Linked DNA regions of Homo sapiens: all the other regions are reported to be linked to region 1. The links are microRNA targets in miRTarBase. Many come from high-throughput screens and were not tested one by one. Region 1 holds a microRNA gene; each other region holds the end of a gene's coding sequence.

Region 1 (5,000 bases):
TTTTTTTTTGAGACAGAGTCTTGCTCTGTCACCCAGGCTGGAGTGCAGTGGTGCGATCTTGGTTAACTGCAGCCTCTGCCTCCTGGGTTCAAGCAATTCTCCTTCCTCAGCCTCCCGAGTAGCTGGGATTACAAGCGTCCACCACCACGCCCAGCTAATTTTTGTACTTTTAGTAGAGATGGGGTTTCACCATGTTGGCCAGGCTGATCTCAAACTCCTGACCTCAGGTGATCCGCCTGCCTCGGCCTCCCAAAGTGCTGGGATTACAGGCATTAGCTGCCGCGCCAAGCCGAATGATTTCTTTTGATACATCTTCCAGTTCACTACTGTTGCAATCTGCAGTGTCTCTTTTTTTTTTTTTTTTTGAGATGGAATTTCACTCTTGTCACCCAAGCTTGAGTGCAATGAAGCCATCTCGGCTCACTGCAACCTCCACCTCCCGGGTTCAAGCAATTCTCTTGCCTCAGCCTCCTGAACGGCTGGGATAACAGGCACCCACTACCACACCGGGCTAATTTTTGTATTTTTAGTAGAGACGGGGTTTCACCATGTTGGCCAGGCTGATCTCGAACTGCTGACCTCAGGTGACCCTCCTGCCTTGGCCTCCCAAAGTGCTGGGATTACAAGTGTGATTACAGGATTACAGGCTAGGATTACACCATGCCCAGACAGTGTCTCTTATTAAACACACCTAACAGTATCCTTAATTTGATATATTAGAAATTCTCAACCCATCCCATATAGCTAGTAGTATCCTGACACCAAAACCAGACAAAGGCATTACAACTACAGACCAAACTCTGTATTAGTTTTCTACTGCTGCTATAACACATTGCCACAAACTCAGTGGCTCAGAACAGCACAATTTATTATTTTAAAATTCCAGAGGTCAGAAATCCAAAACAGGTCTTATGGGACTAAAATCAAAGGATGCATTGCTTCTGGAGGCTCTTAGGAAATAACAGTTCCTCACCTTTTCCAGCTTCCAGAGGCTACTTACGTTCCATGGCTCTTGGATGCTTCCATCATCACATCATATCCTCTATTCCTCGCTTATGCTTAGACGGCTGAGGAGATCCATGAGTTACATGCCTAATCTCTTCAAAGAGCCCTCTATGTGACTGAATACTCTGACTTTTGATGTTTCTAAGGCACTAGCAAAAGGTTGTCCAGCCTCACTCTTGGCTTATACTTTGGAGCATGCTTTTCTGATAGCAAATATCTAAATTTTAGCACCTTCTGTGATCTGGATAGGTAATTTCACAAATTGACAAGCACTGATTGCTTGTTTTTCAACAGTTCTTCTCTCAATTTATATCTTTCCTCGCACATTTCACTATAAGCAGCAAGAAAAAGACAGGTTGTACTTTCACCACTTTGTGTGGAAATCTCAGCTAAACATCCAAGTTCATTACATGTTCATTACATGTAAGTTCATTACATCCAAGTTCATTACAGCAGAAGTGCTGCTTTCTATATTTAGGACACAAATGAGTTAATAGTTCTGCTTCTATATGACAAAGATCCCTTTTCCTTCAGGTTCCGGTAACATGTTCCTCATTTCCTTCTAAACCACCTTGTCAGCACTTTAAACACCTGTATGTCTACCAAGTCTGCTTATGACAATTCAGATATTCTCTAAGACACTGTAGGTTTTCTCCCCTATGATCCTTACTTCCTTCTGGGCCCTCACTGGCAGAAGCTTTATCATCCACATTTTATCTAACAATCTATTCAAGGTAATCTAGATTTTTTTTTTAAATCATGCTACTCAAAATTATTCCATACTCTGCCAAGTACCCAATTCTAAAGTCACTTTCACATTCTTAGGTATGTATTACCAGGACCCCATTTCCAGTTACTAATCAATATAGTGAACCACACTGAATACTAAATTAGAAAAAATCATTTATGTTGAGCAATAATAATGCTGAAAATGTTGGGGTCTTTTCTGCTTCAAACTTTTGAGTAATTATGTCATTGTCTAGTAAGAAAATTTTGCTCATTCTGTGTCAATCACCTTATAACATAGTTATATCATCTTATATTTTTGAATACTAGGGAAGCAATAACATGAATAAGTATTATTGTGTGTTGCATTTTGTCCTCCCAAGATATGTTCAAGTCCTAACCCCTAGCACCTATGAAGATGACCTTATTTGGAAATGGGGCCTTTGCAGATGTAATCAAGTTAAGATGAGGAGATAATGGTTTGCAGGACCCTACATTAAATGACTGGTGTCCTTATAAGGAGAAAGAGATACAAGGACACACAGGAAAGATGGCCATATGACGACGTAGGCAGAAATTAAAGTGATTCAGCTACAAACCAATGAACAGCAAGAACTACTGGCAACCAATAGAAGCCAGGAAGAAGCAAGGAAGGAGTCTTCCCTACAGCCTGAATTCAGAGGGAGCATGGCCCTGCTGATATCTTGATTTCAGACTTACAGCCTCCTCAACTATTGAGAATAAATTTCAGTTGTTTTAAGCCAGCCCGTTTGTGGTATTTTGGTACAGCAGCTCAGGAAACTATAATAGAGTCTAGAGCTACTATACCAAAATAACCACACACACACACACACACACACACACACACACACACGACATGAAATCAAAGAGAATAATTCCCCTACTTCATTCAACAAACACAAAGTTTTGTTTTTACAACTCTCCATGCACCATACTTCCTACTGATTGATACAAGAGCATGGAAAGCACAGACATTGACAGCTTCGTAAATGAACACGGGAATAGGTCATGTTTTTAAACCACCAAAAATGGAAATGGCACCTGAAACAGGAATAAAAGGTAAACAAAAAGACATATATTGGTGGCAGTATACACTGCTATTTTACTTCTCCTATTTCCAATAATATCTCTAATAAATATCACACTTAAAGCAGCATAGAAAAGAGAATGCTAGTGTTACAACCATGAAATCAAGATAAATGCAACAGTGTAGTAAGTCTGGCAAGTGTGCTTGATCTTCAACATTTCTTCCATACCTACTGAAGGTCATGAAGCTCTGTACAGACTGACCATTGAAAGAGTTATATAATGTTCAAAAAATATAAAGCAAAGGGTATTTCTACAAAGTTAATCCAAGTACATTAAAAAACAAACATTAAAAAGAATGAAGGGCTTAGCTATGGAATGATATACTCGATTAGGAAATCTTATCTTACCTGTTGAATTACTTCTGGATATAGCATGGGTAGTCTTTCAGCAATAAGAGCCAGTCCACCCATTCCTGCAAAAACTTGTAATGGTGACTGAATTGGACAGGTTTCAAGCAAAGATTCATCCAGTATCCCATCCATGCATTCATCACCTGGAGTGAGAGCCTCATCTTCTGGACAGCTAGCAAGTAAGTCTCCATGATCTAGACAATAAATTACAAATAACTGAATAGGTAAGAAAGGGTATATTTTTATAATATTCTTTCATTTACAAAAGCAGGTATTACTGCTTTCTTGCTACTCAAAAAAGAGCACAAAACATCATTTATTTAGATATAGCTGTATTATGGCTAGACGGTACAATGACCTTTAAATGACTTCTGATACTGCCTTCTTTAGTCTTGTTATTGGAAGAATGGTTCATGGACTAGTAGTATTGGCATCACCTGCAAGCTAGTTTGAAATGAAGAATCTCCATTTTAACAGTATGATGCTGGTCATTTGTAAGCATACTGAAGTTTGAGAAGCACTGTCCTTTAGGGCATACTTTAACGTATATCCTATGTTAAAATAAATAAGTTCTCAAAGTTCTCATAGCAAATAATATGCTCTAAAGTATCCTATTAAGAAAAATTAATGACAAAGACTTCCCTTACTTAAAACAAAAAATTATACCATATTAGTTTAACTCTGAATTACTCACCAAAGAAAACCAAAAGGTCACGTAACCAGACCCTTTAAACATTAAAACAAAAGAGAGAAATAATCGTGCTGAAAAACTGGGCAAAGACAATGTACCAAAATTTGCTGAAGAATACAAAAGACCAATAACTAAAGACTGAATTTTAGTCATGAGAAAGATGGAAAGTTTAAGTAAGTTCATATCATACTCACACTATGAAAACTACTTATATAGCATTTATAGGAGTAAAAATTGGAAACAACCACAATGTTTCGATGATTGGGGAACAAATAAATTTTCTTACATTTTTATGAAAAAATAGCCAATTCAAAAATGGATATTCAAAAATATTTAATGGAATATAAGGGCCGGGTGCGGTGGCTCATGCCTATATCCCAGCACTTTGTGAGGCCGAAGCGGGCAGATAAGTTGAGGTCAGGAGTTACAGAGTAGCTTGGCCAACATGGTGAAACCTTCTCTCTACAAAAAATACAAAAATTAGCCAGGCATGGTGGTGGGTGCCAGTAATCCCAGCTTCTCGGGAGGCTGAGGCAGGAAAATCACTTGAACTCGGGAGGCGGAGGTTGCAGTGAACTAAGATCGTGCCTCTGCACTCCGACCTGGGAGACAGAAAAAGACTCTGTCTCAAAAAAAATTAATGGAATATATAAGTAAAAAACAAAAATATGTGATCCCAATTATATGAGAAAACATGTTTATATGCAAGAAATGCCACTCAATATAAATTATAACAAAGTTGTAAGTTGAGTTTCTCACTTTTATTATAAAATGACAATTCACATAGCTCTCACAGAAATATCAGAAATTAAAGTACATGCGCTCATAAAACAAATGATGTTATAAGAAATAATGCAACTTAGTTTCCAAATGAAATAATGGCCATTTTTTATATTTACAAAAATTCAGTCATAAAAAAATTATATCTTATGTTGATATAATAAAAACACAAGTCAATTAAGTCATTAGCTATAGAAATCTCTGCCTCTTTGTATGACAGTCTGTAATTTTTAAAGTAGTATTATGCACATACCTTTTTCAGGGTGTAGTCTTTTATAAGAATCTGTTTTTGATAGACTGGGGTCTGTTATAACTCTTGATCCCAATTTAACAGTCAG
Region 2 (8,196 bases), not on the chromosome of region 1:
TTCTGCTGTATGACATCACCAACAAATCTTCTTTCGACAACATCAGGGTAGGTCCTCCCTTCCCCTGACTCCCACCCATAAGCAGCCAAGGCAAGGTCTATGCAGGCTGGGGTTGCTTCCTGCCCTGTGGAAAGCGGGTGGAGCGTGGAGTCCTCCTGCCTTCTGAAAAACACCTACTTGTGACTCAGAAGTCATATCTGCTGCTTTGTATTTGGTGGCCATGTGGGCATGAAGGCCAAGCAGGCTGTTGTGACCCTGTGCCACCTGCATAGCCCTCACTGTGATTCACGAGTGTGTTTCGTGACAAAGTGTTCAGAACAGCCCCCACTCCACCCTGGATAATTATCCACAGAGACCAAGGGAAAAACACAACCAGAAAAGTCCACACATACATCCAGGGCAAGTTGCAAGAAAGTGACTCAGTCAGACAGAGTGAGTGGTTGTATCCTCACAACCAAACTATTATAGAGACAAAAATTTGATAAATTCAAGCACCAATTTTGTTCACGACATTGTATAGGTTTCATGAATCCCCTGACCTCAAGGACAGTTTGCTGATAAGCAAACTAGGAGAATAAAACGTTTATATAGAAAGAGGAAAATCCATGGCACTCATACTCCTACCTCCAACCCCATGCTCATGGCAGACATCACTAATCAATCACAGTACTTTTGATCACTGAAACCCTTATGTGGTCTTAGAATCTTTAACAGGACACTCCAAGAAATCACTGCTGACAGCCAACTGATTTGTGAGATAAGGTCTCCATGCATCTGGATCTTCCATAGAACTGATAGTTGCACAGCATAAAATGGTGAGGGTGGGGCCATTGTGGGTTGAGCCACCAAGGAAGGCCATCCAGGCCTGGATGGGCCAGAACAAAGGTACAGATGAGAGAACGCACAGGGTATCGTGTTCAAGGTAGTGAGTAACTGAGGATAGTCAAACGGAGCAGAAGAAGAAAGGGGCAGCAGGAGGAAGAGAATGCCAGTCTCGCACGCCCTCTCCCACAGGCCTGGCTCACTGAGATTCATGAGTATGCCCAGAGGGACGTGGTGATCATGCTGCTAGGCAACAAGGTGAGTGGCTCCGGGGCAGGGTCAGCCCAGCCCTGCACTTCCTCAGCCCTAGCCGGCCCCATAACCACCCAAGAACAGTTATCTAGGCATCCTTCCTGAAAAGGACTCTGCAGCCTCCAGCTCAGGGGTCAGACATATCTGGAGGCTTCTGCCCATCCCATCTGCCCCTTCCAGGGAAAGTCCAAGTTGTTGCCTGAGAAATCAAGGGGTGCCCAGTTCTCAGCCCCCATTAGAGCAGAGTGAACAGGGTCCCAGGTCAGGGGCTAAGAGTGCAAAGGGTTAGCCCCAACTGCTGTCCTATTCCAAGACCCTTTACCAAAGGTGAGATCCCAGAGCTGGGAGCTACACTGGGCAGAAACCCTGGCCCCAGGCCAATCACACCTGCCTGCAGTCCCTTGGGCCACCAGCAGAGGGCAGGCAACGCCTGCTTCTGGGGCAAAATATGGGCCCGCTGGGGCGGAGGCCTCCTTCCCCAGAGTGACCCATTTGGGCTTGACAGGCGGATATGAGCAGCGAAAGAGTGATCCGTTCCGAAGACGGAGAGACCTTGGCCAGGGTAAGTGATTGTCTGTGGGACAGGGTGAAGGGTGGGGGCAACCCGACGCTGGCCCTGAGGACACTCTCTCCCGGGCAGGAGTACGGTGTTCCCTTCCTGGAGACCAGCGCCAAGACTGGCATGAATGTGGAGTTAGCCTTTCTGGCCATCGCCAAGTGAGAGCTGGGCAGGGAAGGGAAGTGTGCGGGGCAGGGCGGCACACTCCAGGAATCCAGTAGGGCCCGGCCCCTGGCCCAGCCCCTGGACACACCTGCATTCTGCAGGCTGAGGTCCATTTGCTCTGGGAGCACTGGGCCACTGGGAGAGGGGAGGGGGCGGCTCAGCTCCTCACCCCAGCCCAGCCCAGCCCAGCCCAGCCCATTGTCTCTTCTTCAAGGGAACTGAAATACCGGGCCGGGCATCAGGCGGATGAGCCCAGCTTCCAGATCCGAGACTATGTAGAGTCCCAGAAGAAGCGCTCCAGCTGCTGCTCCTTCATGTGAATCCCAGGGGGCAGAGAGGAGGCTCTGGAGGCACACAGGATGCAGCCTTCCCCCTCCCAGGCCTGGCTTATTCCAAGAGGCTGAGCCAATGGGGAGAAAGATGGAGGACTCACTGCACAGCCGCTTCCTAGCAGGGAGCTATACTCCAACTCCTACTTGAGTTCCTGCGGTCTCCCCGCATCCACAGGGAGGGTAAAACACTTAGCTTTTATTTTAATAGTACATAATTTAATACCAAAAAAGGCGCCTGGATCCCCAAAAAACCGAGGCTGGGAGCTAGTGGCCCTTTTGCTTTCTAGGACTTGGGGGGCCGGCCCTCCCTCCTAAGCATAACAAAGGTGGTGTTGCTCCAGCTCAGCCCCAGGGGACACAGATGCACTTTGGGGGTGAGGGCAGGTAATGACTCCATCGCACCCTCAGTTCAGCTGGACAGAGGCTCAGGTGACCCCAGCCTTCACTGTCTCCCGCTCTCCAGGAGCTTATCTTCGCCCCATCTCCCAAATAAGTGGGCCCTTGTGCTGTGAGGAAGACCAAAGCCTCAGGGAAGATAAGAGATATGGAGATGGGAGGGGGAGGACAAGGGGCAGAGAGTAGGGTCTAGCTGGCTATCTCTGGCCTTACTAACACCCCCCTGGAGGCATGCCCCTTTTCTCCAGCACACAAGCACATTGGGGCACCTGGAAATATTGGTTCCAGGCTCCTGTTCTCTGGACTTCAGATCCTGGGGGAGCCCCTCCCCCCCCTGAATCCCTGGCTTAGCTACCTTCCTGCCTGTGCACCTAAAAACCTCAGGTCAGAACTAGGAAAAGAGTTTTGTTTTTATTTTTTTGAAATGGAGTCTCGTTCTGTCGCCCAGGCTGAGGTGCAGTAGTGCAATCTCCGCTCACTACAACCTCCACTCCCTGGGGCTCAAGCGATCCTCCCACCTCAGCCGCCGAAGTAGCTGGGACTATAGGTGTGTACCATCACACCTGGCTAATTTTTGTATTTTTTGTAGACACAGGGTTTCGCCATGTTGCCCAGGCTGGTCTTGAATTCCTGAGCTCAAGCAACCTGCCGGCCTCGGCCTCCCAAAGTACTGGGATTACACGCAGAAGGCACCATGCCCAGGCTAGATGTGTCTTATCCCAATCCTTTGGCAGGCATGCAGCTCCACAGGCGATTTCTTCAAGCAGCTGAAGTGTTTAGCCCTCCTGGGTTAAGAGCCAGATAAGGAGAAATCCCTTTCCTAGGTTTGGAATGTGTTGTGAAAAAAAAGAGAAATCCCTGGCTCCTGGAGCTGGTGGGAGACAAGATTAAGCAAACCTCCCCTGACATGTATCCCTTTGACCCCAAGCTCTGCCTCCTCCCTGACCACCCATGCCCTTTCCTTTAACTTCTCAAACAGATACCAGGGCCTAAACTGCTTTACCTCCCCTCCTACTGAGTCAGGTTAGGTGGTGGGAGGTCACCCATTTCCGAGTTAAACCAATGCAATATGAGTAAAACAAAGTCATGTGGGTATGTCTGGGGTAGAGAGAGGGGTAGCAAGTTCATGTGTCCTCCTTGGTCACATATCTCCCAAAGCTCCGATCCCTGCCATGGGAAGTGGACAGGAAACATGAGGTCATGACCTGCAGGCATCTTTACTGCAGCTCTGCCGGCCTGGAGGGGGAGAGGGGGAGGAAGAAGTATGCGCTGCACATTTCTGAGGCTACTGCATTTGCTTTCAAGGCAGAAATCTTGCTCTGAGCAGTCAGCGGCTCCAGTTTGGGCCCGATAAGGAAGTTCTCCGTGGCCTCCCTCAGGCAGAGCAGGGAGGAGGCTGACATTGCCAGTCTCTTCTGGGGCCCAAGGCAGGTTGCAGGAGATCCAATCCCATAGACAGCTCTGGGCCTCTTGCATTTGAGTTTTTCAGAATTAAACTGCAGTATTTTGGAAAGCACATCCTGTCCACTGTTTCTTTGAAGTGAGTGGGGGGGGGGGGTCTTGTTGAAGGAATTGTCATTCACTGCCAAAATCATTCCATCCTCCTTCCTCAGTGTCTGTCCTCAGATGGTCAGCTCCCCGCTCAACAGACTGTCTCCCGCCTCTGTGACCAGCCTCTCTTTGGCAAGAGGGAGCTAGAAGGCTTTACAGTCCTAATCATTTTTCTGTTGGAAAAAAAAAAAAAAAACCAAGGCTCCTTTCCCTGTGGCGTGTACCCAGAGGTTGATTACCTGAGTCTGTCCTGCCTCTCCCCACCCCACCTCCCTAGCCAAACGCTGCTGCCAAAGCCCACGCTATTGCCCTAGATGGCCTGTCTTCAGCGGGCTGCCCCTCGAGGTCCCAGGCTCTCCGCGGAGCCCTCACCTTCCCAGCAGGGATCAGAACCTGCACTCCTCTATGCGAGTCCTGGGACAGCACAAAGTGGATTAGGGTTAGGGTTCCCACAAACGGAAAAATGTTATTCAAACAACTCTGTAGGGTCCGAGGAGGCCCTCCGTCTTAATTCTCGAGACTGACCGGCCCTCGCTGCCCCGAGCGGGAGCAGTTGCCCCGGCAACAGCCGCTCCCTCTCAACTGGAGCTGCACCCAGGCTTTGGCTAAAGGCTGTTAAAACGTTGGCCAGGTGCGGTGGCTCACGTCTGTAATCCCAGGGCGGATCACCTGAGGTCAGGAGTTTGAAACCATCCTGGCCAACATGGCGAAATTTCGTCTCTACTAAAAATACAAAAATTAGCGGGGCGTGGTGGTGCGCGCCTGTAACCCCAGCTGCTCGGGAGGCTGAGGCAGGGGAATCGCTTGAACCCGGGAGGCGGAGGTTGCAGTGATCCGAGATCGCGCCACGGCAGTCCAGCCTGGGCGACAGAGCGAGACTCCGTCTCAAAAAAAAAAAAAAAAGTTAGGGTCCTTTACCCGAGGGCCGGCTTTCCTCACTCCCCGCCACAGGTAGGGGAAACCAGGCCGGAGCCGGCGGGCCCACCCGCCCAGAACCGGGAATTCGGCGAGCCCCGCCCCTGCCACCCCAGCGCCGGCCGCTCGGTAACAAACACTTCCACTTCCTGAGCGCTAGTCTTCGCCCGCCGCGGGGCGCCGCGCCGAGCGCAGGCCCCGCCCCGCGCGTTCCCAATGGCCGGCGCCGTTCACCCGGCCGGAGCGCCCAGGCCTGCAGCCCCCTATTGGCCCGCGGAGGTCCCCACCCTCAGCGCGGCCCCGCCCCCGGGGTAAGGAGCCGGGGCGGACTCTGGGACGCTCAGACGCCGCGCGGGGCGGGGATTGGTCTGTGGTCCTCTCTCGGCTCCTCGCGGCTCGCGGCGGCCGACGGTTCCTGGGACACCTGCTTGCTTGGCCCGTCCGGCGGCTCAGGGCTTCTCTGCTGCGCTCCCGGTTCGCTGGACGGGAAGAAGGGCTGGGCCGTCCCGTCCCGTCCCCATCGGAACCCCAAGTCGCGCCGCTGACCCGTCGCAGGGCGAGATGAGCGCGGACGCAGCGGCCGGGGCGCCCCTGCCCCGGCTCTGCTGCCTGGAGAAGGGTCCGAACGGCTACGGCTTCCACCTGCACGGGGAGAAGGGCAAGTTGGGCCAGTACATCCGGCTGGTGGAGCCCGGCTCGCCGGCCGAGAAGGCGGGGCTGCTGGCGGGGGACCGGCTGGTGGAGGTGAACGGCGAAAACGTGGAGAAGGAGACCCACCAGCAGGTGGTGAGCCGCATCCGCGCCGCACTCAACGCCGTGCGCCTGCTGGTGGTCGACCCCGAGACGGACGAGCAGCTGCAGAAGCTCGGCGTCCAGGTCCGAGAGGAGCTGCTGCGCGCCCAGGAAGCGCCGGGGCAGGCCGAGCCGCCGGCCGCCGCCGAGGTGCAGGGGGCTGGCAACGAAAATGAGCCTCGCGAGGCCGACAAGAGCCACCCGGAGCAGGTAAGCGGGGCCCAAGCCGCGCAGGCTGGCATGGAGTGGGAGGAGGATCCGGAGAGACCCAGGTGCCCCGGCCGTCCAGCCCCGCGCCCGCCGTCGTTTTTCTGAAACTCGAGCTGCGAGGGGGAGACCGCTTCCGCCCGCCGACCAGGCGCCCTGACACATCCTAGGCAGGCCTGGGGCTGCGTCCCGCGACCTCCTCTCCTTCCCAGGCTGTGCTGGGAGCTTGAGCGCCTTTGCCGCCTGCACCTCTTGTTCCCTGGCCTTTGGGAGGGCGGCGCAGGGGAACCCAGCCCCCTTCCCTCGGGTCTGTGGGTGTCTGCTCCCGTTCCTCGGAATCCCCCAATCCTGCTCCTTCCCTGGTGCCCTCTCCTCGTTCACCCCAGTCCGCAGATGGGCCGGGGAGAAAGGGCTCTCCGCCCCAGAGGTGCCAGCTTCGCCCGCCACTCCTACTTCAAAAGCTAGAGGAATAGCATTACTCCTCCTGTGTGGAGCCCCGGCGCGAGGAGGCCCTCTCCGCAGCCCGCCGGTGTGTGTCCTGAACTTCAGTCCTGCTGGACTTCATCCTCCCGGAGTCCTGTGTGACTTCTAAGGGAGAGGAAGCCCCACCATCTCAGGGCGGTGTGGGGGTTGCCTGGCAGGGAGGAGGAGCCAAGGCATCTCGGAGTGGTGGTTCTGCCACCTCAGAGGATTTACGATTCTCAGGAATGTGAAGAGTAAGCGCCTAGAACTGTATCTGGGAGGGAAGGGGAAAGACCTTGGAAGAAGAAAAAGATGGCCATGGGGAGGAGAGAGAGCTCCTGGGGCTCACGGCCCTGTGTGCGCCAGCGGAGCTCACGGTGAGCCGGTGGTCTTGCCCTGGCCTTGCCATGGTCACTCTGGTGCCCACACAGCCAGCAGGCCGGTTGCTTTTTGCCCATGTTTGGTGTTTGCCCATGGGATCCCAGTTTGGATCAGCTGCAAGAGGGGCAGCTGGCAAAATAGGAGTTGTGCTGAGCCTCCTGTCCCCAGAGAGTGGAGTGGTGCATTGTGTAGGGCAGGGCGTGAGCCTCCCAGGACCCCTTCAGCTTGCACCACCAGCTCTCCCTGGTGGCAGTGTCTGATGGGAGTGTCCGTGGGGCTACGAGGAGCCTCCTGGACAGAGAAAGGGCACAGTTCGGCATTAAGGTAGAAGGCAAAGCCCTAGAGGATCAACTGGTTTGGTGGAAGTGAGGTCACCAGAAGCCCTGTCCAGCCAGAGCTGGGTGCTGGGAATGCCAGGGCCACCAGGCTCCCACTTCCTGCCCCTGCCAAGCTGGCATTGGCAAGGGGAGGGGGAAGGGATCTGAGCACCCGGAGCAAGGAGGTTGATGCCAGGGAGTTGGGGCCGATGATCTCCAGTCCCAGGCAGAAATCCAGTGTGAACTTTGTGCTGAGTCCATCGATCGATTTGACATTCTTTTTTTTTTTTTTTTTTGGACTTTGGCACCCACACAAATACCCACCCACCCCCACCCCCCACAAGTTGCAGTCTCGTTCAGCTCCTCCCTTTGCCCTTTTGGTTATGCTGCTGGGTGCCAGAGGGCCTGGGAGGCGAACGTGGAGGCCTGGCATAGCACACGTGCGCAAAGGCAGCAGCTTTGAGCTTCCTGGGTGAGCACAGACTCAGATTCCTGCATGTTTTGGAGGGACACCTACATTTGTGTGTACTTTGTTAGGCCAGGAGATGAGAGGAGAGCCACCAGCAAATCCTGGGGACACCATCACCAGCCAAGTCCCAGGACTTCTGAGTTCTGGTTCTCCCATCTGTGAGATGGAGGCATTGGGCGATGTGATGCCTGCCTTCTCTAGAATTATAGAAATGACGTGAAGCACTTGAGCCCCTTACTAAATGCTGAACTGCACTCCTTCATGCCTGGCGTTTGAATCCCAGCTCCTCTAAACTGACTCCTAGTCAACACCATTGAGTCCTTCTAGCAGAAAATCCTCTCCTCTCAATCCTGTGTGTTGAGCATACAGACACCCATGTGGTTATTAGAAAAAATGTTAACAGACATTGTAAGAGTTCGTTTTTCTAAAACACACCCGTTTCCTACATAAAGCATCAAATGGAGGTTTGCCAATTCGTTTTAGTCTGAATTTGTGTGCAAGGTGGGGCTGTTCCCTTGTCTTCATTAGCCCTCCACTTACTAAGTGATGATATCAGTGGAAAAGTGTGGCGCAGAG
Region 3 (8,196 bases), not on the chromosome of region 1:
TGCATTTTAAATGATTTAGAATTCTTCCATTAATTGTTCCTTATAACTGAAGTCTTCCAGGGTATCTATCATCCATGGCTCTCAAACCGTAAAAACCACTTAGTACAAGATTAATGGGGAACTTCAAGATGAATGGACAAAACTGAAATCACCGAACCAACTGATTATGATCACCAAAACTAAAACCTGAGATTTTGCACCTCTTGATGATGCAACAGTAAGCACACTGCATCTCCTATGATATATTCTTGTCTAAAAGAAAGAAAAAGAGGTCAGGTGCAGTGGCTCACGCCTGTAATCCCAGCACTCTGGGAGGCCGAAGCAGGCGGATCATTTGAAGTCCGGGGTTCGAGACCAGCCTGGCCAACATGGGGAAACCCTACCTCTACTAAAAATACAAAAGTTAGCCAGGTATATTGCTTGAACCTGCGAGGTGGAGGTTGCAGTGAGCCAAGATCACGCTCCCACAGCACTCCAGCCTTGGCGACAGAGCAAGACTCCAACACAAAGGAAAAAAAAAAAACCAGGCTGCCATGGTGGCAAGGCACCTATAATCCCAGCTACTTGGGAGGCTGAGGCAGGAGAATCACCTGGGAATCAGAGGTAATGAGCCGAGATAGCGCCACTGCACTCCAACCTGGGCAACAGGGCAAGACTCTGTCTCAAAAAAGAAAGAAAAAAAAAAAAACAGAACCTATGTATATAGGTTTATATATATGTAAAATCAACCTTCTGAATCTACCATTTTACAAAAACCACGGGGGTTAAAAATCATGTGAAACAATATCACAATGATACCAATCAGCCAAATATAGGTCATAGAATCAACCTCAGGTTTTCTTCAGTAAAGACAGGAAACTATTAGAGACTTAAGACACTTAAGAGACATTATGAAACACATGTATAGAGAGCATTTGGATCTTGATTCAAAAAAACAAATTAGAAAAAATATTTTCATCAAGTGAAGAAAAAAAAATTTTTTTGAGACGGAGTCTTGCTCTGTGGCCCAGGCTGGAGTGCAGTGGCAGGACCTCGGCTCACTGCAAGCTCCACCTCCCGGGTTCATGCGATTCTCCTGCCTCAGCCTCCCCAGTAGCTGGGACTACAGGTGCCCGCCACCACACCCGGCTAATTTTAAGTGAATAAAATTAAACACAGAGTTATGCATGCCACTAAAGAATTACTAGGCTGGACACAGTGGCTCTTGCGTGTAATTCCTGTGCTTTAGGAGGCCAAGGCAGGAGGATCACTTCAGGCCAGTAGTTTGAGAGCAGCCCAGGCAACGTAGCAAGACCTCATTTTTTTGGAGGCAGTCTCGCGCTATCCCCCAAGCTAGAGTGCAGTGACACCATCTTGGCTCACTGCAACCTCCACCTCCCGGGTTCAAGTGATTCTTCTGCCTCAGCCTCCTGAGTAGCTGGGATTACAGGCAACTGCCACCATACCCCACTAATTTTTGTATTTTTGGTAGAGATGGGGTTTCGCCATGTTGGCCAGGCTGGTGTTGAACTCCTGACCTCAGGTGATCCGTCCGCCTCAGCCTCCCAGTGCTGGGATTACAAGCGTGAGCCACGGTGCCTGGCTGCAAGACCTCATCTCTACAAAAAATTAAAAAATTAGCCGGGCTTGGTGGCACACGCCCGTAGTCCCAGCTACTATGGAGGCTGAAAGTGGGAGGATCCCTTGAGCCCAGGAGTTGAAGGCTACAGGGAGCTATGGTTGAGCCACTGCACTCCAGCCTGGGTGCCCATAGCAAGACTCTGTCCAAAAAAAAAAGGCAAAAACTTTAAGCTGAACCTAATAATTTAGCCTCCAGACCAGGAAATACAGAGATATAGAAAAACAAGTTAAACGGTACCGTAAGAAAACCAGTAAATAGAGGACATTCAAAAAAACTGTTGTAGCCTCCTAACAGTTAAGTTAGGAGAGTAAGACAAACTAAAGAAACCGATTAACCTGGCCGGGCACAGTGGCTCACGCCTGTAATCCCAGCACTTTGGGGGGCTGAGGTGGGCGGATCACTTGAGGTCAGGAGTTAGAGACCAACCTGGCCAACAGTGTGAAACCCTGTCTCTACTAAAAAAAATTAGCTGGGCTTGGTGGCAGGCACCTGTAATCTCAGCTACTCAGGAGGCTGAGGCACGAGAATTGCTTGAACCCAGGAGGCGGACGTTGCAGTGGGCCAAGATCATGCCACTGAGCTCCAGAGCAAGACTCCTTCTCAAAGTAAGAAAAAGAAACAAATTAACCTAATGCAACTCATAAATGCTGACTGGATCCTGGTTTGGAAAACGTAGCTACATAACACTTCTTAGACACAATTATGCTATTTGAATATAGTATTAGATATCAGATACTAGGGAATGTTTAGATACATTAAGTATGATAATGGTACTGTGGTAATGAGAACATCTTATAAGATGCATGATAAAGTGATGTCACGTCTATAACTTACTTTCAAACTATTGTTAACTCTAGATCGAGAACACATGGGGGGTTCATTGTACTGTTTTTTTTTTTTTTTGAGACGGAGTCTGTCTGTTCCCCAGAATGGAGCGCAATGGCGCCAATCTTGGCTCACTGCAACCTCTGCCTCCTGGTTCGAGGTATTCTCCTGCCTCAGCCTCCTGAGTAGCTGAGAATCAAGGCGTGTGACACCACACCTGGCTAATTTTTGCATTTTCAGTAGAGACAAGGGTTTCCCCATGTCAGCCAGGCTGGTCTCGAACTCCTGACCTCATGATCCACCCGTCTTGGCTTCCCAAAGTGCTGGGATCACAGGAATAAGCCACCACGCCCAGTGTGACTCCTTTTAGTTAGCCGGATTTCTCTGTAAAATACACATTTTCATGTTGCATTTGCTTTCCAGTCATCAAGGTCAATGCAAATAAATTTTATCTTATAAAGGAACACTTTGTAGTCTCCTGTGAATAGGTCCTTAATTATGTTGTTTCAAAAGGTCTCACAAAGCAACTAAAGTACTACAAATTCAGCACAAGGAATGGGTGCATGAAGCAAAGGAGTTCTAAATTTTAACCAACCCACTTTACTTTTTCCCTTCCCAACACACAAAGCTGTGATTAACGCAGGAGAAAGTATTATTAATGAGAACTAAGCTGACCTGAAGAGCCATAACAACATATCCCATTTGCTATGTTTTAGGTTTTCCTACATGAGGCCCAGAATTTGGGGGGAAATAACTCCATGTGCACACCAGCCCCCAAACCTCATTTAACAGTGATGCCTTCAAAAATAAATCTTTCCCCCAACCTAACAGTGATGCCTTCGAAAAAAAGTCTTTCCTTATGCTGTTTCATACATATGGTAGAAAATAAAATTGTCAAGATATTTATTGTGTTAACATGTGAGACATACAATTTGCTCAGTAAAAATAGCACATGAAAAAATATTATAAGCTTATATTCATAAAGAAATGGGTATGTTATTACCTCTTTTTCTTGCTTGCTCAGGACTATTAATTTGACAAGGTTGGAATGTGCACAGCACAGCTGAGACACCACCATTTTAACACTGAATCACTATACCATGAACTGACAGAACCCTGCATGAAGGATGAAAAACTCATACCCAAAGTCAAGAATCACACAGCAGCATGGAGGGGGAAAATGAACTATATGATGCTAACCGCATTTAATTTCGAAGTGGGGGGAAACAGGGCATGGGGAGTGAATAATGGTTGAAGTTCCAGGCTCTAACTGTACATCCTTAAGTAAATTAAGTTTAACTCATCTATTAAAAAGTGAGTTAAAACAGATGAGTTTTAAGGTCCATCTCAACTCTAAATGAGACACTAGCAAAAACAAGGAATCCACCACTTCAGATCCTTATGAAACCCAGGAAAAGGTGGGGCACAGTGGCTCACCTGAGGGCAACAGTTGGAGACCAGCCTGACCAACACAGTGAAACCCCATCTCTACTAAAAATAACAAAAATTAGCTGGGTGTGGTGGCGGACACCTGTAATCCCAGCTATTTGGGAGGCTGAGGCAGGAGAATTACTTGAACGGGGTGTGGGGGTGGGGGGTGGAGGTTGCAGTGAGCTGAGATTGCACCATTGCACTCTAGCCTGGGCAACAGAGCGAGACTGTCTCAAAAAAAAAAAAAAAAAAAAAAAAGGCCCAGGAAAAACACAAAAATAGCAATGGTATTAAAACTGTTCAGAATCGGCCAGACACGGTGGCTCGCACCTGTAACACTAGCACTTTGGGGGGCGGGGCAGGTGGATCACCTGAGGTCAGGAGTTGGAGACCAGCCCGACCAACATGATGAAACCCAGTCTCTACTAAAAATACAAAAAATAGGCCGGGCGCGGTGGCTCACGCCTGTGATCCCAGCACTTTGGGAGGCCAAGGCGGGCGGATCACGAGGTCAGGAGATTGAGACCATCCTGGCTAACACCGTGAAACCCCGTCTTTACTAAAAATACAAAAAAAAAAAATTAGCTGGGCGCGGTGGCGGGTACCTGTAGCCCCAGCTACTCAGGAGGCTGAGGCAGGAGAATGGCACGAACCCAGGAGGCGGAGCTTGCAGTGAGCCGAGATCGCACCACTACACTCCAGCCTGGGCAACAGAGCGACACTCTGTCTCAAAAAAAAATAAAAAAATAAAATAAAAATAAAAATACAAAAAATTAGCGGGGGGTGGTGGCGGGTGCCTGTAATCCCAGCTACTCAGGAGGCTGAGGCAGGAGAATTGCTTGAACCCGGGAGGTGGAGGTTGCAGTGAGCCAAGCCTGCACTCCAGCCTGGGCGACAAGAGTGAGACTCCGTCTCCAAAACAAAACAAAACCACCACCACCAAAAAACCTGTTCAGACTGAACACAGAACTCAAGGGCATTATTATAACAGATTACAAAGTGAATTTTCTATAGCTTTGCAAAAGTATCTAAATCCCATACATCCTTTTAACAGCAATTTTCATTATTGAAGACATGACTTAAGTACAAAAAGAAAAGTCCAAACTGTCAGCTTTCAGTCCTCCACATTCCCCTCTTTAATATGGTATTTTGCACTATATACATTAATGAAAATTTGAAACAAACAAAAAGAACTTTAGTCAAACTCCCCTTCCTCCTCCAGCTTTATTGGAATAGTTTAAAATTACATTTCTATTTTCTAGGACTTCAGTTGCTCTTTCCATCTGACTTTTAAAAACTGATTACAGCAAATGAAACACAGTTGTCTAAGTGATATAGTATACAAAAATAACATCTTGATTTCTGTGAAAATGCATTTCTCTGCAATTCCTGAATAGCTCCAAATTATGCTAACTCTGAGCATTGATGTTTACTCTGGGTTTTAGATTTAGTCTTTGAAAATAATGTGTTCTAAACCTTTGCCATCACCATCTATGTGTCCAACATCAACACTGTGATGAAGTTGTTCCTGTTTAGGCTTTTATTCCGATTTCTCTCGAACAGCCATTAACACGCATGTTTATCTTTTTGTTTACTCCCACTCAACTGTATGTTCTATGTAGGGCCTGATACAGATGTTACTTGATGTTATTTAATAGCTACTGAGGTCAGACAATCCAAGACCATCATTATACTAAAATTAAAGTTATTTATGGAAGTTCATAGACACTTCCAGAATTGGTTTTACCTCCTACATGGGAACATGTTCAAGGAACCCAGGACGGGCTTACTGGTCTGACTCAACTCTTCCCATTCATCAATCCCTATTCACCAGTGGCACGGAAAGGGGGTTCTTTAACAAAGCATTATACATAACACCTCTACCAAACTAAACATAAACTTTTTTTGTAGTTAAATGCAGAAAGTCGGTTTTTTTCCACCCCTTTCCTCCTTTTACACGGCAAGTAAAGCTCACTGGCCTGGGAGTTGCCTCTATCTGCCAACCTTTGGCCAGTGAAGAGGATTCAGAGAAAATAATACAACCATCAATCAGAAAAAGGAGGGGCGACAAAGGAAAATAATTAGGCTGTAGCCTCAATTGTGCATTCCCGTGCAAGGTGCCCTGACTCGCCACAGCGGTAACAGTTGACTTCACTTGTCTTGCTGCAGTTGATGGCTACATGACCAGTTTCACCACACCTAAAAAAGAAATTAAAAGTTTTCACAATGGGCCTCAGAAAAAAACTGTCTACCAAAGCAACAGTCACCATGCAGAACAAAACGCCTGATCTTTGTTTTCATGCAATTAACCCCTAAGGTTTCACAGATATGTACACAACAACATTTATCAAATTATACACTTACATGTCACAAACAGGCAAAGATTTCTGGTTACATGATAAAAGATTTATGTATATTACAGAGCTTTCTATGAAGTCTCTGGAAGTTTCAAATTATAACACTCTTACTTTTATATATTAAAAAAGTCCAGTTGTGAAAACTGCCCAGGTACCATAAGCCACAGGATATCAGGGCAGAATACAGAATTATATACAGATAGACTGCCAGTTACATATGCTGAAAATTGGTCTTATCTGGTCACAGCTAAGTTTCACTGAATTTACTAAGGCCCTTCCATTTATAGCTAATTCATCTCTGGAAGAATCTCTGCAATGAGTTTTCTTCTAACAACATTCTGACACCTTACCTATAGCACTTCACTTTGGTGCAGTCTTTTTGAATGTGTCCGAATTCTCCACAAGAATAGCATTTCTGCTCATCTGCATGGTCGCAGTCACGAGCCAGATGGCCTGGTTTGCCACAGTTGTAGCAGCATTGCTCTCGCTCTCTCTTGGGCTCCTTGCAGTCCTTGGCAATGTGGCCACCTCTACCGCAGTTATAGCAGGCTTCAACAATAAGGAAAAGAAACAGGCCAAGACTATAAAACCTTTACAAAGTGTTACGTTTTAAATTATACAATACAAAACCTCAAAGGTGGAAATGCTATACACAGTTGCATGTGCTCACCTCTCCAAGCTCTAGAGGGGTATGAAAAGGAAGTGTTAAATACTTACCATCCTCCTGAAGATCACAATCCTTGGCAAGATGACCAGACTCACCACAGCGATAACAAATGTCTGGAAGAGACGAGGAAACAAACTGGAAACCTGTTTTGAGCAAAAACAAAGAATTCGGCTAGTCAGACCAGTCTTGATACTAACAAATACTGAAGTACTTCAAATTTTTCTATTCGACAAAATACCTCTATCCGAGGTAAAACCACCTCTGCCACGGCTTCTCATTCCACGACCACGGCCTCCACCAGTAGGACATTCCCGGGCCCAGTGGCCAGATCGTCCACACTTGAAGCACTCATTGCTGCTCATGGCTGCAGTCAGATCTTTGAAATATTAAAAGTAACAGCATTAAACCACTGAAAGTTCTTTTAACTTTTATTCTCTATTAAATGTATTTTTGGAAAATTATTCTGGGGAAAAAAGCTAGCTAATATATTGGTTAAAAAAATAGCTGGGCATGGTGGCTCACGCCAGTAATCCCATCACTTTGGGAGGCCGAGGTGGGTGGATCATGAGATCGAGACCATCTTGGCTAACATGGTGAAACCCCGTCTCTACGAAAAATACAAAAAATTAGCCCGGTGAAGTGGCAGGCGCCTGTAATCCCAGCTACTTGGGAGGCTGAGGCAGGAGAATGGTGTGAACCCAGGAGGCGGAGCTTACAGTGAGCTGAGATGGTGCCACTGTACTCCAGCCTGGGCAACATTGAGACTCTGTCTCAAAAAAATAAAATAATCACACAACTACATGATTGGGTATTATAGACTTATTATAATATACACCTTGATAAAAGTGATGGAATTTACAGGGTTAGGGTCAATGAAAATCCATTAAGAGAAATAATTGGTAGTGGCTGGGCACGGTGGCTCATGCCTGTAATCCTAGCACTTTGGGAGGCTGAAGCGGGTGGACCATCTGAGGTCAGGAGTTTGAGACCAGTCTGGCCAACATGGCGAAACCCCGTCTCTACTAAAAATACAAAAAACAGCCGGGCATGGCGGCATGCGCCTGTAATCCCAGCTACTCAGGAGGCTGAGGCAGAAGAATCGCTTGAACCCGGGGGGTGGAGGTTGCAGTGAGCCGAGATCATACCACTGCACTCCAGCCTAGGGGACAAAGTGAGACAGACAGGCAGGCAGGCAGGCAGGCAGGCAGGCAGACAGGCAGACAGGCAGCCAGGCAGGCAGGCAGGCAGGCAGGCAGGCAGGCAGACAGACAGACAGACAGACAGACAGACAGACA
Region 4 (8,196 bases), not on the chromosome of region 1:
TCTTGGTGTTAACTCTTGCTTCCTTCTCTGCTTCTGCCATGCTTCCAAGCAGCAGCTACTCCATCCGCCACTCAATAAGTATGCCAGCCATGAGGTAATGTATGCCTGCTCGCTGCGGCTCCAGAGCCGGGTGTCTCTGGTGGGGGTTGGGGCAGCTCCCGCCGGTTACACCTTGCCCTTCCCATATTCCTGGATTAATTGAGGACTCCATTCCCTTGGCAACCTCTGATGACTAAGGGCCGGTAAAAACCCCCTCTAGGCTGACGAGGAAGAGCTGGTAGGGGGTCAGGCTCTTCACCTGCAGCCTCCAGAGGAGATCCTTGTGTCAAACTGGGCCGTGTCCTTTCCAAGTCCTGACCCTGGCTGCCTGCAGTGGGTGGGGTGGGGTTCGAGGGGCTCGCACACAGATCCTGGCACTTGCCCTGGTGGGCTGTCACTCAGGACACTTCACGGTCTCAGCCTTCACGGAAACACCCAGAGCTGTGGTCCTTATTCTGTGCCTGTCAGGCACCACCCTGATTCTCAGGATTCTGTGCCTGTGCCGTGAGGCACTGCCCTGATTCTCAGGAGAGCCCAGAACTGTGGTCCCTATTCTGTGCCTGCGCCGTCAGGCACCGCCCTGATTCTCAGGAGAGCCCTGTTCTCCTTGTGGGGACTCTGGCTGGGTGTCGCAGACGTGCTGGCCTCTAGAGTCCCCGGGCCTGGGAGGGGTATCTGTTTGTGTGGGAGGGACTGAGTGGGATGGAGCTGGCCTGCTTTCTCCTCTTGTCTCCTTATCACTCTGCTGTCCCAGAAGTGTCCTTGGTCTTCCGTTTGCTTCTCTGAGAGATGTGCATGAAGAACTGCACAGACTTTTCATAACTTCAGTACGAGAGCCCAGGGTGTCCCTGTAGGGGACAGCAGAGAGGGGCCGACAGCCCCCCAACTGCGCAGACTTTTCATAACCTCAGTACGAGAGCCCAGGGTGTCCCTGTAGGGGATAGCAGAGAGGGGCCGACAGCCCCCCAACTGCACAGACTTTTCATAACCTCAATACGAGAGCCCGGGGTATCCCTGTAGGGGACAGCAGAGAGGGGCCGACAGCCCCCCAACTGCGCAGACTTTTCATAACCTCAGTACGAGAGCCCAGGGTGTCCCTGTAGGGGATAGCAGAGAGGGGCCGACAGCCCCCCAACTGCACAGACTTTTCATAACCTCAGTACGAGAGCCCGGGGTATCCCTGTAGGGGACAGCAGAGAGGGGCCGACAGCCCCCCAACTGCGCAGACTTTTCATAACCTCAGTACGAGAGCCCGGGGTGTCCCTGTAGGGGACAGCAGAGAGGGGCCGACAGCCCCCCAACTGCACAGACTTTTCATAACCTCAGTACGAGAGCCCGGGATGTCCCTGTAGGGTATGACAGAGAGGGGCCGACATCTCCCCAGCTGCACAGTCAAGGGGTTTCCAGTTGCCTTGTGTGACGTCTGGACCTGTCCCTGTGGTTGTTGGGCATGGCCGACCTCACTTTTGACCTGGGGAGTCTCCGGAATGACCTGGCTGTCTCACAGTTTTGCCATGAGATCTTGGGATGTTGTTAGGGACCCTTTGGAGGCTGGCCCTAACCCTGAGGCCCTTCCGAGTTAGGAGAGCAGCACAACCCTCTCCTCTTGACACCGACACTCTTCCCTCTCTCTTTAAAGGAACTCTGCGACCTTCAAGTCGTTTGAGGACCGAGTTGGGACCATAAAGGTAATTGTACCTGGACTGTTTGATGGTCTTGGCAAGGTGTGACCTGTTACAGCAACTTGTTTATTATTAGTCATTTAGTTATGGTAGACTCACATACAGTTGTGGGAAGTAATGCAGAGAGGTTCCTTGTGCCTTTTACACAGTTCTCTCCTGTGACGACATCTTGGAAAATCCTGTAGTGCAGCCTCCCCACCAGGACATTGGCACTGACTCAGGACACAGAACGCCTCCACACTGCCCTTCCTGGTCCCCACTGCCCTTCCTGGTCCCCACTGCCCTTCCTGGTACCTTCTTGGCCATGCTGACCTTCCTCCCGCCCTACCCCCGGCAACCCCTAGTCCACTCTCCCTTTGTATAATTGTGTCATTTCAAGAATGTCACGTAAATGGAACGATACAGTGTGCAGCTTTTTGGCATTCACTGTCTTCATTTGGCATCGTTCTCTGGAGACCTGTTGGGGCTGGTGCCCGTCCGTGATTTGCTCCCTGTCCCTGCTGAGCAGTGTTCGTGTTACATAAGCTTTTGTAGAGCATTGAGCATGGGCCTGGGATCTGCCTTGTGTTGTGTGCTCTGTCTCAGGTTTTTCTGTCTTCATCTTTTCTCTCCTGTAGTCTAAGGTTGTGGGTGACAGAGAGAACGGCAGTGACAACCTCCCTTCCTCAGCGGGGAGTGGTGACAAGCCCCTGTCGGATCCCGCACCTTTCTAAGCCTGTGGTTGCTTCACCCGCTGCAGAGCACACGCAACCCAGCCTCAGCATCACAGCCGCAGCTCTGTTCAGCGGAGCAGCCAGCCAGGGCGGATGAGCAGAGCCGGCCCTGAGGACAGTCCTGCCCATCCACGCGGAGATGTGGCTGCCGCGTTTGCATGAATTTGAAGAACACAGGCTTGTACACAGATGTTTTACACTCACGTTTGTAGATGAAACAGATCACTGTGCTGTCCTTCCTAGGGGTGCAGGAAGTGGACAGGGCGGAGGGTTTGAAAGAATATTGAGCCAAAGCCCAGGCTCCCTTTGGGAATCATGTTAGCCCATCAGAATGTTGAAGGATTGAAGAGTTCTAAGCATAAAATAAGTGGCATTTTCTGACTTCTTCCTCCTCCTCCTTCCCTGACTCACAGAAGGAATGCAATCACCCAGCAAGTCCTACCTGTTACGCAATTTTTTATCTCAAAATGCCGAACGAGAAAACTGTCCATTTTCTGAGACCCCCAGAAAGGAAACTGACCCTCAGCAGCTGCCTGATTGTTACGCGAATCTAGCTTTAACGGAAGCAAATTCATTATTTTTTAAATGCAGTGGACTTTTCAAAAAGTTTAAATTAGGCAAAGCAGCTTTAGCCTCATAGAATATTATTTCTTTGGACTCAAGCTGAAATACAAGCCTTACATTGCCTTATGCTTTATTTCTTTCTAATTTTTATATGTATATAGATGAGGGTTCCTTAATGGTTGTGAGCATTGTGTGGAATTTTACACCTGGCCTGCGTGGCAGCCTCTTCCAGTTGAGGTGTTTTATGTCACGCACACTCCATCCCAGTGTACAAAACCTGCTTCTCTTCTCAACCGTGGCAGCTCCCGCTGGCTCCTATGCCCTGCCCTAAAGGGCTCTTGAGCCTCTGGGAATGGGAGGGGCCAAGAGAAGGAAAACCCTGTCTTTAGCACCCTTTAAAAGAACTGTGCCCCCCTTCTCAGTGCTGCCTTTGCATGGGCCTGGCCCGGCTCACATTCGTCAGTGACTCCAACCCTCCTGCTTGCTGTACTTGGGATGAAACGACCCCACAGGTCAGGTGGAGGGTGGGGCGTGGGCATCAGCCAGGATTGCCGTTACAGTCTTTTTCTCAGGAGCTACAAAGATCTCTTCCTGTTACTAAATAGTCGCACCCCAGCAGCCTCTCTCGCACACCGGGGCCCTGCATGTCAGATGGCGTGGTCTGCAGGGGGAGCTCTGTGCCTTAGTGGCTCTTGGCAGGACACTGAGGGCCTGCCTGTGGTGTGCCCGGCTCTGCCACTCCCGGGAGGGGAAGGGCTGCTCAGCTCAAGGTGTCCTGTTCGGTAGAGCAAGTGTCCTCTGACAGCCGTGTCCCCGGACAGTTCAGACACCCTTGGGGATGGCACTCCACACACGACAGAGATGCAGGGGCCAGGGAAGCCCAGCGCTCGGTGCCCTTCGTCCAGGGTTAAAATCGGCCTGTGGGGTGTGGTGAGAAGGCAGGTTGTGCGGGTGTTGACCGATGTATCTTTTCCTTAAAGTTATTATAATAATGGGTAATTTGTCAATAAAGCATTCCTTTGGGGGAAAGTCCGCCTCGGCTTGTGTGATGTATCGTTCGGGACCATGATAAGAGTGGTAAATGAACTGGCACACGGTACCTGCCCTAATGAGTCCGCACCCTTGGGAGAGGCAGGCAGGGGACAGTGCTAAAGACAAAGGGCAGGTCCTCAATGCTGGGACAAGGGGAGCCAGCTGTGAGGGGAGAATGGTATATGGCCAACCTGTGAGGTCAGACCCAGCGTCTTGGGAAGAGGAGTTGAAACTGAGCCCCAGGAGGCGGAGGAGGAGCTCACCAGGCTCCAGGTTGGGCCGGGAGCTCCAGAGGCTTCGCCAGCTGCCCCTGCAAGCACTGAGCTGCTGCTGAGCACACCTGTAGTCCCCGCCATTCTGGAGGGTGAGGCAGATCACCTGAGCCCAGGAGTTCAGGACCAGCCTGGGCAGCATACCGGGATTCCATCTCAACTAAAAACAGTAGGCTGGGTGTGGTGGCTCATGTCTGTAAGCTCAGGACTTTGGAAGGCCAAGATGGGAGGATCACTTGAGCCTGGGAGTTTGACACCAGCTTGAGCATCGTAGCCAGGCCCTGACTCTACAAAAAAGTGAAATAATTAGCCGAGTGTGGTGGTTCACACCTGTAATCCCAGCTGCTCAGGAGGCTGAGGTAGGAGAATCATTTGAACCCGGGAGGTGGAGGTTGCAGTTAGCCGAGATCACGCCATTGCACTCCGGCCTGGGCGATAAAGCGAGACTCTGTCTCAAAAAAAAAAAAAAAAAAGAAAAAGAAAAAGGAAAAGACCCTTGAGGGGGAACCTCCACTCTGCCCCTGGTCTGGCGCTTTGCATGTATCCATTCCTAGTCTTTGGAGTTCCCACTGGAAAACTAGTGGGAGCACCAGTCTTCCTTTGGAGGTCAGAGGTAGCTGGGCTCACCCCAGATGTAAGAGCAGGGAAAGTTAGGTGACCTCGAATTGTATGGTACATAAGCCCCAATACAGCAGGGAGCTGGTACCAATAAAGGGTGAAATGCACTATTGCCGCCTGCAGTCAAGATTTACACTAATTTATTTTGGAATGAGTTCATGTGTTCTTCATTTATTGAACAGATACTGTAACTGCCCTGCGGGTAAGAGTCTGCTAGGTTTTGTGGGGTACAAGGGTGAATCTGATGTGGACCCAGTGCTCAAGGACTTTGCAACCCGTTTGTTGGGGAAGACAGATTCCCCTAAGTCACTGGCTTGTGTTTGACGAGGTGAAGCGCTTGGAGAGCTTCGAGGATGGAGCAAGTGGAGTAAGTGGACCTGAGGAGCGGGCAGCAATGCCTGAAGGCTCAGTCCCCTCTTCTCAGAGTGAGGGTAATGGTATCTGCCTCATCATATTGAAAGGCTTAACCTTATAAAGCACTTAGCACAGGGCCTGATGTATCAGAGGTAAACATCAGACTCTTCCCAACTGTAGCCACTGTCAACTTTCCTGTCTTCTTTTTTTTTTTTGAGACAGGGTCTCACTCTGTCGCTCAGGCTGGAGTGCAGTGGTGCAATCTCAGCTCACTGCAACCTCCACCTCCTGGGCTCAAGCGATGCTCCTGCCTCAGCCTCGCGAGCAGATGGGATTTACAGGGGCATGCCACCACGCCCAGCTAATTTTTGTATTTTTAGTAGAGACAGGGTTTTGCCATGTTGGCCAGGCTGGTCTTGAACGCCTGACCTCAGGTGATCCGCCCACCCCGGCCTCCCAAAGTGCTGGGATTACAGGTGTGAGCCACTGTGCCCGGGCGTACCTTCCTGTCTTATTTTCTCCAAGCAGGCTGGAATGTTCATGGATAGATATATGTGTGATAATATACTTTTTACATATCATGCATCGTGCTCATTTTAGTTTCAGGAGTTCTTTGCTCCTGTGTAGCCTTTCTACACATTATCTTTCTTTTTTTCTTCTTTTTAAATAAGAGATGGGGTCTTGCTCTGTCACCCAGGCAGGAATGCAGTGGCACAATCATGGCTCACTACAGCCTTGACTTCCCACCCGATCCAGCCTCCTGAGTAGCTGGGACTACAGGGGCATGCATGCCACTGTGGCCGGGCCAATTAAAAAAATTTTTTTTTATAGAGATGGTGGTCTCACTATGTTGTCCAGGCAGGTCTCAAACTCCTGGGCTCCAGTGATCTTCCTGCCTTGGTCTACCAAAGTGCTGAGATTCCAGGCGTGAGCCATGGGTCCCGTTGTATACATTTCAGTAACTATATTATTCCATTTGAGTGCTCACTTGTGCAGTTGGGCAGGTTTCCATTCTCGCTATTAAAAATAGTGCCTTCATGAATATTTCAGTGCATATACCTTTTTCTGTATTTAGGAATATTTTCTTTGGAAGAATGTCCCTAAAGTGGAACTGCTAGGTCTCAGAGGGACTCACTTAAGGCTGGTTCATTCATTCTTGCAGCTCCCAGCACAAGTGGAATATAGCTTCAATCTGAGATCGGTACCAGGCCCATTTCATTCTCTCATCCCTCCAATTCTGGCCTGAAATATTTCATTCTCTTGGAATCTATAGTTGTAGATATGAACCTGGCCTTTCTGCTTCTTGGGTTCCATAGGCCTTTTCTTGCTGCCTGCTTGATGTTGCGCAGCTTAATGACTGCTAGGAGGCTTCCCAAGCTCTGACACTTCCAGGCTGTGAGACTGGAACAAGCTTGGCAATTCAAGACCGGCATTATGGCAGTGAGTTATGAGGGCAGAGGAAGGAGGCCAGAGCGTGTTGAGAGAGAATTTGGGTTTCACGCAGTGTGTCACGGGAAGCCTTGGATGCTACTGGGTTTGTTTTAAAAAGATGACCGCACTGAACTCAGGTAAACGGGCAAGGGTGGAAGCGAGGAGGCAGGAGCACCGGCCGCAGAGGTCTGGGAGCTTCTAGGATGGGAAGTGGCCCAGGCAGCCTACGCGGGGCAGGCCGTCAGTGAGTGGCGGAGCGCCTGCAGTTACAGGGACAGGGAAGGGTGGCCGACGGGATGGGCAAGGGCAGAGGGAGGTGGAGTGGACGTTCGTGGTCCTGCCTCTCCACGCTGCTGTTTGGAGATGATTCCGGGAGGGTGGGAGGGCGCTGGCGACGGCATTTCAGTGGTTGGACAGGAAGGAAGGAAGGACGTCCCATCTCGGCGCTCCAGGGTTGAGCAAATGTCAGTCCCAGGACGGTGGCTCCGGGTGGGGGCGGGGGCGACGGTCCGCAGCCGTCTCCCACCAGCTCCCTGTTCAGTTCTTTGATGAGAACGATTACGTTTTCTCAGTCTTACTTAAAGCGCTGAGTAAACTCACCTGCAAGACCAGCAAGCCCTGCGCTTCTCTTTCTGCGCGGTTCCCCGCAGCACATGGCGTGTCCACCCGGGACCCACCTGCGGCCACCTGAAGACTGGGAGGACTGGCTCCGCCCCCGCGCTTCGTCCCCGCCCACTCATGGGCGGAGCCTCCACAGGGCGCCTCGGCCCCGGGCTGTCACTCGGGACTCCGCCCCTTCATGGACGGAGCCTCCGCTCGGCTCTCTGAGCGCATGCGCAGCCGGTCCCACCCGCGGCTCCGACACGCCGGAGCCCACGTCCTTCCGGGAGCGCGCGCGCCGGTGCGGGTGCGTGCGTGAGCGTGCTCGTCTCCGCTGCCGCTGCCGCTGCCGCTGCCGGTGCCGCACCCGCGCCCTCTGCCGCCGCCGCCGCCGCCGCCCGGGGTCTCCAGGCTGAGGAGTGCGTCGGCCGCTGCCCAGCAGCGCCGCGAATCGGGGAGCGGAGCCGCGGAGCCGGCGGGAGGGCGGGCGGGCGGGCGGACGGGCAGGTGAGCTCGCTGCGGGTCGGGCGGGCGGATCGGCCCACGTCAGGCCCGGGCAGGCGGGCGGGCGGGCGCGGGTGGGGGGCGGGGGCGGCACTCCAGAGCCGGAAATGGCGGCGACCCCCGGGCCGGGGCTGCGCGGGCGCTCGGGGCCGGAGCTGCTGCGACGCCGCGGCCTGGGCCGGGGCGGGGGCGCGGGAAGGTCGGCGCCGGGGCCTGCGGGAGCCGGGCCGGGCCGGGCCGGGGGTCTGAGCACCGTGGTGGGGGCTGGGGCGGCGCTCTCCGCGGGTCTCTTCGGGCCCGGACGCCCCCTCCGCTCCCCCAGGTCCCCGCGGCCGCCCCCAACCCCCCGGGGTCTCCTCTCCTGCGGGGGGACTGGAGAAGCTGGGC

Evidence for each region. Region 1 holds the annotated microRNA hsa-miR-558 (UGAGCUGCUGUACCAAAAU, at 2,509-2,527, opposite strand). A microRNA usually pairs through its seed, bases 2 to 8, with sites in the 3' UTR of a target mRNA and lowers its output. Matches are read on the target gene's strand: a 7mer-m8 pairs with bases 2 to 8, a 7mer-A1 pairs with bases 2 to 7 and ends in A, and an 8mer does both.
Region 2: the mRNA of RAB37 is a reported target of hsa-miR-558. Seed matches in the 3' UTR shown: 7mer-A1 at 2,469-2,475, 7mer-m8 at 3,265-3,271 and 7mer-m8 at 3,749-3,755.
Region 3: miRTarBase lists CNBP as a target of hsa-miR-558. Seed matches in the 3' UTR shown: 7mer-A1 at 4,057-4,063.
Region 4: the mRNA of TPD52L2 is a reported target of hsa-miR-558. Seed matches in the 3' UTR shown: 7mer-m8 at 2,493-2,499, 7mer-m8 at 3,297-3,303 and 7mer-A1 at 3,760-3,766.

Annotation. Positions count from the first base shown.
Region 1 is chr2:32,529,740-32,534,739 of GRCh38, reverse strand. It overlaps MIR558 (microRNA 558), which reads right to left and starts at 2,587; the gene lies at 2,494-2,587. BIRC6 (baculoviral IAP repeat containing 6) reads right to left here. Exons shown (of 74, transcript NM_016252.4): 60 at 4,916-5,000; 61 at 3,189-3,385.
Region 2 is chr17:74,743,294-74,751,489 of GRCh38, forward strand. It overlaps RAB37 (RAB37, member RAS oncogene family), which reads left to right. Exons shown (of 9, transcript NM_001006638.3): 5 at 1-47; 6 at 1,015-1,080; 7 at 1,580-1,636; 8 at 1,715-1,791; 9 at 2,013-4,042. The coding sequence ends at 2,118. NHERF1 (NHERF family PDZ scaffold protein 1) reads left to right here and starts at 5,335. Exons shown (of 6, transcript NM_004252.5): 1 at 5,335-5,994. The coding sequence starts at 5,554. It overlaps SLC9A3R1-AS1 (SLC9A3R1 antisense RNA 1), which reads right to left and starts at 6,574. Exons shown (of 3, transcript NR_187307.1): 1 at 5,770-6,574; 2 at 5,280-5,634; 3 at 2,307-4,250. It overlaps MIR3615 (microRNA 3615), which reads left to right and starts at 5,320; the gene lies at 5,320-5,406. RefSeq lists enhancers at 3,889-4,484, 5,773-6,398, 7,890-8,196 and a silencer at 4,879-5,568.
Region 3 is chr3:129,164,495-129,172,690 of GRCh38, forward strand. It overlaps CNBP (CCHC-type zinc finger nucleic acid binding protein), which reads right to left. Exons shown (of 5, transcript NM_003418.5): 2 at 7,140-7,277; 3 at 6,952-7,044; 4 at 6,585-6,783; 5 at 3,333-6,076. The coding sequence starts at 7,263. The coding sequence ends at 5,959. Among named protein-coding and RNA genes, the nearest start is that of ISY1-RAB43, 7.5 kb to the left of the region's middle.
Region 4 is chr20:63,887,512-63,895,707 of GRCh38, forward strand. TPD52L2 (TPD52 like 2) reads left to right here. Exons shown (of 7, transcript NM_003288.4): 6 at 1,679-1,727; 7 at 2,339-4,027. The coding sequence ends at 2,434. DNAJC5 (DnaJ heat shock protein family (Hsp40) member C5) reads left to right here and starts at 7,615. Exons shown (of 5, transcript NM_025219.3): 1 at 7,615-7,812. RefSeq lists enhancers at 6,828-6,997, 6,930-7,457, a cis regulatory region at 6,913 and a silencer at 7,457-7,696.